Linked DNA regions of Homo sapiens. The protein of the gene in region 2 purifies or fractionates together with the protein of the main gene of each other region. This does not show direct contact. Each region holds a gene or a part of one and is shown on either strand. Other genes may lie near its edges.

Region 1 (3,809 bases), on a different chromosome or scaffold from region 2:
TGGGCATCTGTCCTAGAGAAATGAAAATTTGTGTTCACAGGAAATCCTATATGTGAATGTTTGTAGAAACTCTATTCTTAATAATCAAAAACTGAAAACCCAAATGTTCTTCAGTGGGTGAATGGTTAAACAAATTGGTACATCTATACCTGTAATACTATTCAGCAATAAAAAGGATGAGGTATTGATACTTGCAAAAGCCTGGAAAATTCTGCTGAGGAAAAAAGCCAATCCTAAAAAGTTAAATACTGTATAATTCCACTTATACAACATTCTTGAAATAACAGAATTGCAGAAATGAAGAACATATGGTTGCCAAGGGTTAAGGAATGGATGAGGGAAGGAGTAGGAAGAAAGTAGGTGTTGCTATAAGAAGGCAACACAAGACCTTTGTAATAGAAATATTCTGTATCTTGATTGTATCAATATTAGTATCCTGGATGTGAGTGACATTGTACTCCAGTTTTGTAAGATGTTACCATTGTGGAAAACTGGGTAAAGGACACAGGGGACCTTTGTGTTAATTGTTGGAAGTGTATTTCAATCCACACTAACCTCAAAATAAAAAGTTTAATAATAAAGAAAAAAAATGTTATTGTATAACTTTCTGGTACCTGCCAAAGAACAACATGCAGCGTGGTAGATACTGTTAGCAAGCATTCCAAGCTAGAGTTCTTCTGGATTCCCACTCAGAAAACAGTCTGAAAAGATCTAAGAACTGGTAAAACAACTTCTAAAGAAGTATTAAATGAAATCACTGTTTTGTGAGAACTTGAAAAAAAATACAAGGGTAATAAAATATGCATTAAGGAACTTTGTTTACCAATAGGCTCCTAGCTGAAAGTTCAAAAGGTCATCTACTAGACCTGAGCCTTTTGAATTGTCGAATAAGGACAGTACACTCACTGCACCTCAGGAGGACACCCAGCAAACTGGACTTTCTACAGTTCACATCAAAAAATAACACAGAGCTGATTTCCTTCTTATAATGCCAAAATCTGTTCTTTTTTTTTTTTTTTTTAATTCCATCCTTGTATTTCTTTGGGTTAAAATTCTTATTTATTGACTTATCAACCCGAGGTCAGAGAGACAGAAAGTATGAAATCTTTTTTTTTTTTTTTTGAGACGGAGTTTTCGCTCTTGTTGCCCAGGCTGGAGTGCAATGGCACAATCTCAGCTTACTGCAATCTCCGCCTCCCAGGTTCAAGCGATTCTCCTGCCTAAGCCTCCCAAGCAGTTGGGATTACAGGCATGCACCACCACGCCCAGCTAATTTTCTATTTTTAGTAGAGACGGGGGTTTCTCCACATTGGTGAGGCTGGTCTTAAACTCCCGACCTCAGGTGATCCTCCTGCCTCGGCCTCCCAAAGTGCTGGGATTACAGGCATGAGCCACTGTGCCCAGTCGAAAGTATGAAATCTTTAAATGTTCTCTAAGTTTCATACTGGTACCCTGTGCTGCCTCTACACACATCTTGTCCTTATTATATATCTCATGGTGATAAATGATGGTTGTTACTAAAAAATCTGAAAAGACATATATGAGGAATGCCCCAAGTGCTGTTGGTATGAATCTTCTTTATTCATTAATGTATTAATATACATTACTTAAACAGTGTATGTTTCCTCTTTTCAGTGAAATAAAGTCTGTCATACTATAAAAGTAATATATTTATTGAGAATTTGAAAAACAAAAGATAGTTCTACCATTCACAGACCACTATGTTAACACTATGATTTATTTTCTTTAGAATCACTCAATTGTGTATTTTATTTATTTATTTACTTATTTTTGAGATTTATTTATTTATTTATTTTTGAGACAGAGTCTCACTCTGAGACCCAGGCTGGAGTACAGTGGTGCAATTTCAGCTTACTACATCTTCCGCCTCCTGGGTTCAAGTGATTTTGTGCCTCAGCCTCCTGAGTAGCTGGGATTACAGGCATGCACTACCACACCTGGCTAATTTTTGTTTAGTATAGATGGGGTTTCACCATGTTGGCCAGGTTGGTCTTGAACTCCCGACCTCAGGTAATCCACCCACCTCAGCCTCCCAAAGTGCTGGGATTACAGGCGTGAGCCACTGCACCCAGACCAATTTGGTATTTTTTTTTTCCAGACCTAACAGTTGAACTCAAGAGCTAACAATCAGAAGTTTTCTTAAGTCTGCTTAAATCTCTAAAGCTATCCTCGGTAGTCACCAGTATCTATCAAGATTACGGTATAGGCCAGGCACAGTGGCTCACACCTGTAATCCCAGCACATTGGGAGGCCAAGGCGGGTGGATCATTTGAGGTCAGGAGTTTGAGACCAGCCTGGCCAACATGGTGAAACCCCGTCTCTACTAAAAATACAAAAATTAGCCGGGCATGGTGGCACATGCCTATAATCGCAGCTACTCGGGAGGCTGAGGCAGAACTGCTTGAACCTGGGAGGCAGAGGCTGCAGTGAGCTGAGATTGTGCCACTGCATTCCAGCCTGGGTGACAGAGCGAGACTTTGTCTCAAAAAAAAAAAAAAAAAAAAAAAAAGATTATGGTATACATAATTGTAGGCAACTGGTTCAGAGAAAATACTGGAGATGACTGAGTAAATCAATGATTTTCAGAGTTACTTGCTAATTTGAGGTCTTCTAAATTTTTCACTATTCACTTCGCAGTTATTTAATAGTAAGCTTAGACTAACAAATTCCACCAGCCACATAAACCACCTGATGGTGAGAACAGGTAGCAGTAATGTGGTTGTTCTTTTATTTGATCCTAGTTTCCATATATTACAGCAAATTTATGTTACTGTGGCAAAGACCCATCAGGGGTTACCTTCTGATTATATCCCTGAAACCTGGAGAGGGAGAGAAGAAATAAGCAAATTCAAGAATCACTGGCTTAGATCTTGGGAATGATTACAATGATGCTGTTATTCTTGTGGCAAACAAAATATATCCTAGAACCAGGGAACTTAAGAATAAAGGGAGATCTTATCAGTCATCAAGCTCTAACCTTTTCTGATGCATGAGTTTCCTTTCTGTTCTGGAAAAGTAGTTGTCCAACCTTTGCTTGAATGTCTCCAATAAGGCCTGATTCTTACCTGAAAAATGAGGTAATATGATTACTAAGTCCCCTTCAAGTTCTAATAGTCTTTTCAATGAAATGTAAACTTCTATTGGCTAATCATTTATTTTTTTAAAGTTTCTTCCTTTTTAGTAAGTGAAATTAGTTTCCTCTATTCTGAGGTTACAATTCTTTGGCATATGTGTTACTATTAAAAAAAATACTTAATGTCATGCTATCCTTATTTATCCAGGTATAAGTATACATTACACTTCCCTTATGATTTTCCTACTAATTCTGGGAGGGATGGTTCAGAAATCTTAAGAAACTTACATGAGGTCACTTATACAGATAGTAACTGGACAGCTGGAGCCTAACTAAGGTCTTTGGACTTCAAAATCCAGTATTTTCCCCATTGCACCTATAAAATGACCTATTTAAGACCTATAAAATGTCTTATAAGCTATTATGACACATATCATCTATCTAAAAATATTTTCCAAATAGCCAAATATATGTTATAAGCTAAGTGACTGACCAGGTGCAGTGGCTCAATCCCAGCATTTTGGGAGGCTGAGGTGGGTGGATAGCTTGAGCCCAAAAGTTCTACATCAGCCTGGGCAACATGGCAAAACCCCATCTCTACAAAAAATACAAAAATGAGCCGGCATGGTGGTGTGCACCTGTAGTCCCAGCTACTCAGGAGGCTGAGGCAGGAGGATCACTTGAGCCCAGGAGCTTGAGGCTGCAGTGAGCCATG
Region 2 (4,456 bases):
AGTCAAACTGCAGCTGCGTTCGGCGGGAGAGGCCGGCCCCGGAGGGGCTGATCAGCAGAGTGGTGTGTAGCCTTACCGCGCTTTTGCACAATGGAAATGCGGCTTCCACTGAAGAGCACGTAGCTTTCCAGATGCACGGTTTTGTGGAACTTGGGGGTTGGGGGGAAGGGGAAGCATTGCCTCCCCCCACGTGAGCGCAGCGGCGCACCAAGGCACTTGGCTTTCCAAGGCGAGCAAGGACAGATATCCGCCGCCACTCTCCATCTCAGCCGGGCGCCCTTATTTAGGGAAAAGACGCACAACCGTACAGGGCGGCCTTGGGCAGAATGATCGGACTGCCCCATCCCAGCTGGACCACATCCAGAGGTGGGAAGGGACAGGCGTGCAGCAGGACGACCCCAACCACTGCTGGACAAGGCCCAGCTAGTCCCGAGTCCCCAAAGACGTAGTTGGACAGGCTACTCCTGAGGTGGAGTGGTGGCTGGCTCCCTTGGGACACCACATCCGACAGGAGTAGGAACGAACAGTGGCCCCCTATACGTGACAGGAGGGGCAAGCTCTCATGGGCTCACTATCCTAGCCACCTTCGGGTGCGCAGGCCTCTGCGCTGGCCCTGAGAATTTGGCCTCTTATTTTCGGAACAGGCGGGATTCCCTGCCTACGAAGGTGCCATAGTTCTCGGGGCCTGATGAACAACTCTGAGGAGGGGAACGGACCGAGCAGCTGTTGTGCTTGGCTACCAACCTCCTCCTGTCTTTGTGTGATCTCCCTCCGAATTCGGTTGCTGGAGGCAGCAAGGAGGTTTTTCCAGGATATGCGAGTGGTTAGAGAGTGGGGTCCCAGAATTCCTGCTCCCCTGTCTTGGAGCCTCAAGCAGACAGGCAGAGAAAAATCCCGATACAATTACCCCCACTCCCTTTTAGAATAAAACGGATTTTCCTCAAAGTGGTCTGCTTACTGCCTCAAATATAGTCTTTTGAACCCCTCTTACTTTTTCAGCCACTGGCTTAGAATCCAGACGCTACCCTTCCCCATAATTTCAATCCCAATCCCTTCAAGCCAGCCCAGCAAAGAGCTTCCTGGTTTCTGGTCCCCAGAGTTAAGTTTTAGGGTCAGAAGCAAGGGAAGGTTTGGGTACAAAGGTGCACCTGGCACCAAAGGCGGAGCAACCTCAGCGGCTTGGATGACCGTTCCTGTTGGGCATAGTTTCCTTCTGGATAAAACAGTCGCCAACCTCGTTTTTGTGGTTTCTGTCTCTTGGTGAGATCTAGGGTAACGACTGAGATGGGGACTGTGGGGAGACGCTGCTTGAAGAGCCAGCCGTCAAAAGGGTAATTTAGCGACTACCCGTGGAGCGCTGGTGGTGAACCTGGGAATCAATTGCAATCGTCTGGCAGAGTTGGCCAGCAGAGATCAGCCGGCGTGAGTCAGCGCCGGAGGGTGAAGCAGGTGGCAGTAGCCAGGGTCTAGTGATTGGGAAGCCCGCTGTGTTTGGGGAGTAATTCCCCCGGTTCCATTGCCGGCTGGTGCTGCGGCCTTGAGCTCCTACTACCAGCAGGGAAAGGACGCTAAGTGTCCCAGCCCCTGCCCCAAAGCCTGGAAAACCATACACAGCAGCAAAAGGGCCTGGGGCTGGGATCCTCTCCATCTGCCTTGGCCTGCAACTCTTTTCCTGGTGCTCAGGAGATGCAGGAGCCAAAAACCAAGTGACTGTCTTCCCAAGGCCTCCGCACAACCAGGCCAGGACTCCGGGCTTCAGTGTGAACCCTGGGTCCACACTGCTCCCACCTACTGTCCGCCTGTGCCCTGACCCCAACCAACCTCGCCTCCGCCGCCCAGCGCGCCGGCCATCTCACCTTTCTGAACCGCGGGGCTCAGCGGCCCCCAGCTCGGGTTCTTCCCGTCCTTGAAGAGACCGTCTCCGACGGGATCTGCAAGCAGCAGAAGAAAAGAATCAGGAGAACCCCGGGCGGAAGTTGTGGGCTTGACAAAAGGGCCCCGGGCCAAGGCTTAAGGGGGGTGCTGTGGTCCCCAGGCGCGAGGCTGGGGGCCCGGGCCACCCGGCTCCTCCTCCCGGAGCCTGGTCCAGGCGCGCTGCGCGGAGCCCCTCCATAGAGCCCAAGTCAGGAAACGCGTCCAGGAAAAAGGAAATCCGCTTTCCGAAGGGGCCGGCTGGAGCCTTATAAAGCCGAGCGGGGAACTGCGCCAGCCGAGCTGGAGCGCGAAGAGAAGAGGAGGGTGCCTGGAGGGCCGGCCTGAAGCTCGTAGCAGGAAGGTGAGGAGCCGTGAGAGCGCAGGGGAGACGCCCGCGGACCACAGCCTTCTGGTACGGCTCGGCCACAGAGTACTCCACCACGCCAGAGACCCGTGCTTCCCCTCTCAGGCTCCTTCGGGTCCCTGAGTCCCGGCTCTTGGCCCCCAGGCTCCCAATCTGCTCATTTCAACTCCTCTAGACCCTGCACTGAAACCCAGAGCTCTCTATCTGCCTTTAGGTCTCCCCAGTGCCCTACATTACAATCGGCCCTCCATGCAACCCGAATCTCCGGACACTTCTCCTTCCCCTGGACCCCAGCACTCTCTTCCCATGCCTGAGCCTAGACTTCCCGCCCCAGGTTCCGGTGCCACCAGCCTCCGGCTGGTCCCTGGTACCTGGCAGGTACATGTTGATCAGCAGGGGCTGGGAGGCGCCGCTCTGTCTCATCGCCGCCGGGGACTGGGCGGTGGGAGATGGGGGGGACGGGGAAGGGGGGCGAGGCAGGCTTTGCGCTCGGTGGCACCGATCCCCGCCCGAAGCGACCGCGGGTGACAAGGAGGAGAAGACGGCGCCGGGTCCGGCAGGGCCTGGCGGGAGGGGGCAGCCCGGGCGTGGCGGGGGTTGCGGGGGGGTCCTGGAGAAACGCTTCCAGCTAAGGGGCCGCTTGGAACCCTCCGGCCCCCGCGCGGCCCGGGGCCGCAATTTCCGTTTTAATTAAAGCGCTGCCGCCTCGGCCCCCAGGACCCCGCCCCCGCCCCTCTTATCGTCCCATCGCAATAAAGTCTCCAACGCGCCGCGCCACAGCCAAGCGCACCCGGCAGCCCCCCGCGCCCCGCAGCCGGGGAGACGCGCGGGGGATGGGCCCGGGCCATGTGCCCTGATGGGAGCCTAGAGCGCGTGTCTTTTCCGCCTCCCTGACTCTCTGCAAACAGTGATGGGGCTGGTGTACCCGGCCCCACCTCGGACCCCAGCAGCCACAGCCCCCTCCCTAGAGCCCTTCTTCCAGTCGGCTCCCGCTCCACTCGCCGCTCACTCTCCTCCCCCTCCCTCCCTCTATCCCCACCCGGGTTCCCGTCTCCAGGCTGCGTTATCTGCATCTTCACTTTTAAATTTCCGCTTCCCTCCCTCTCGCCTGTCGCTGCGCGCCCGGCCCTGCAGCCGTTGCTCCCTTTATCTCTGCCCGCATCCCCGCTCCCTCCTCCTCTTCTCCCACTCTCTGCTCTTCCCTAGAGACCCGAACCCCTTCCCCGTCTCCTTCTTGCTTTGGCCCGTTTCCTGCCTTTCTGGGGCCCCCAAGCCTCAGGCCTGGTGCTGGGCCATCTCTCCTGGCAACTTATGATGGGTGGCCCCCTCTTCTGTCCTCCCCGCCCCCTTCTAGGTCTCTCTTTACCTCCTAGGCTTTTCTCTCCGACTCTCATCTCCCCTCCAGCCTTCTCTCTCCCTCTCATCCTTCTCCCTCCCCTCCTTTTCTCATTCATTCAGTCCCCATAAATTAGTAGTGGCTTGGACTGCTGAAGGCCTCTAAAGATGTTGAGAATCTGTCCTGGCTTTCCCTGATGGGTTCCTGAGCCCCCTGCTACTTCCCTGTACAACTATTCTGCTCCCATCCTTCCCCATCCCCTGTCCTCCCAGTCTGCCACCCACCCTCACCACTACTCCCATTCTGGCTATCCCTGAACGAGGCTGGAGAGGTGGAGGGGTTAAGACAGGGTTGTGCACTGTACAAGGCTGGAATCCACTCCAAGAAAAGGATTCCTATTTCTAACTCATGCAAAGATGTTGATGTGGTTCCCAAGTGGCCTGGAGTCTCTCTGGGTACCTATGGGGCTTCGTGGCTCTGGAGAGGCAGGCTAAGGAGGATGCTGGCTGAAGATGAGGCTCCAGCCCAGAAGCCCACCTTCTGCAGCCTTGCAGTATGGAACGGGTACTGTCAAAACTGGCATTCTCAAAGTCCTCTCTCACTGCTTGAGCCCAGGGGTGGAGGAGGCCTGGGAATGGGCAGGTCTCCTGCTAAGTGCCTGGTCCTGGGATGCCTGATTGAGGATGGCTGGAAACTCCTACTTCTGGGGTTCTACAGGGCCCATGTTCACCCTCATTTGCTGCAACTTCTGGAGTGTTCATCTTTGCTCGTGGAGGGTGCAAAGGAGCCAGGGAGAAGAGTGGGAGGCAGAGTGTGGAGGGAAAAAGAGGGATCCCAGGGCC

The links.
Region 1: the proteins of FEV (region 2) and TIMM9 purify together in Homo sapiens (affinity purification with mass spectrometry; one large-scale study listed by BioGRID and IntAct). This does not show direct contact.

What each region holds. Positions count from the first base shown.
Region 1 is NC_000014.9:58,421,010-58,424,818, forward strand, and holds part of TIMM9 (mitochondrial import inner membrane translocase subunit Tim9), read right to left. Parts: intron 3,087-3,809; 5' UTR 2,999-3,086; intron 1-2,998. UniProt on the Homo sapiens protein: Mitochondrial intermembrane chaperone that participates in the import and insertion of multi-pass transmembrane proteins into the mitochondrial inner membrane.
Region 2 is NC_000002.12:218,982,375-218,986,830, forward strand, and holds the start of FEV (protein FEV), read right to left. Parts: upstream 2,811-4,456; 5' UTR 2,702-2,810; coding exon 2,650-2,701; exon of another isoform or gene 2,511-2,649; intron 1,932-2,510; coding exon 1,857-1,931; intron 1-1,856. UniProt on the Homo sapiens protein: Functions as a transcriptional regulator. According to PubMed:12761502, it functions as a transcriptional repressor. Functions in the differentiation and the maintenance of the central serotonergic neurons. May play a role in cell growth.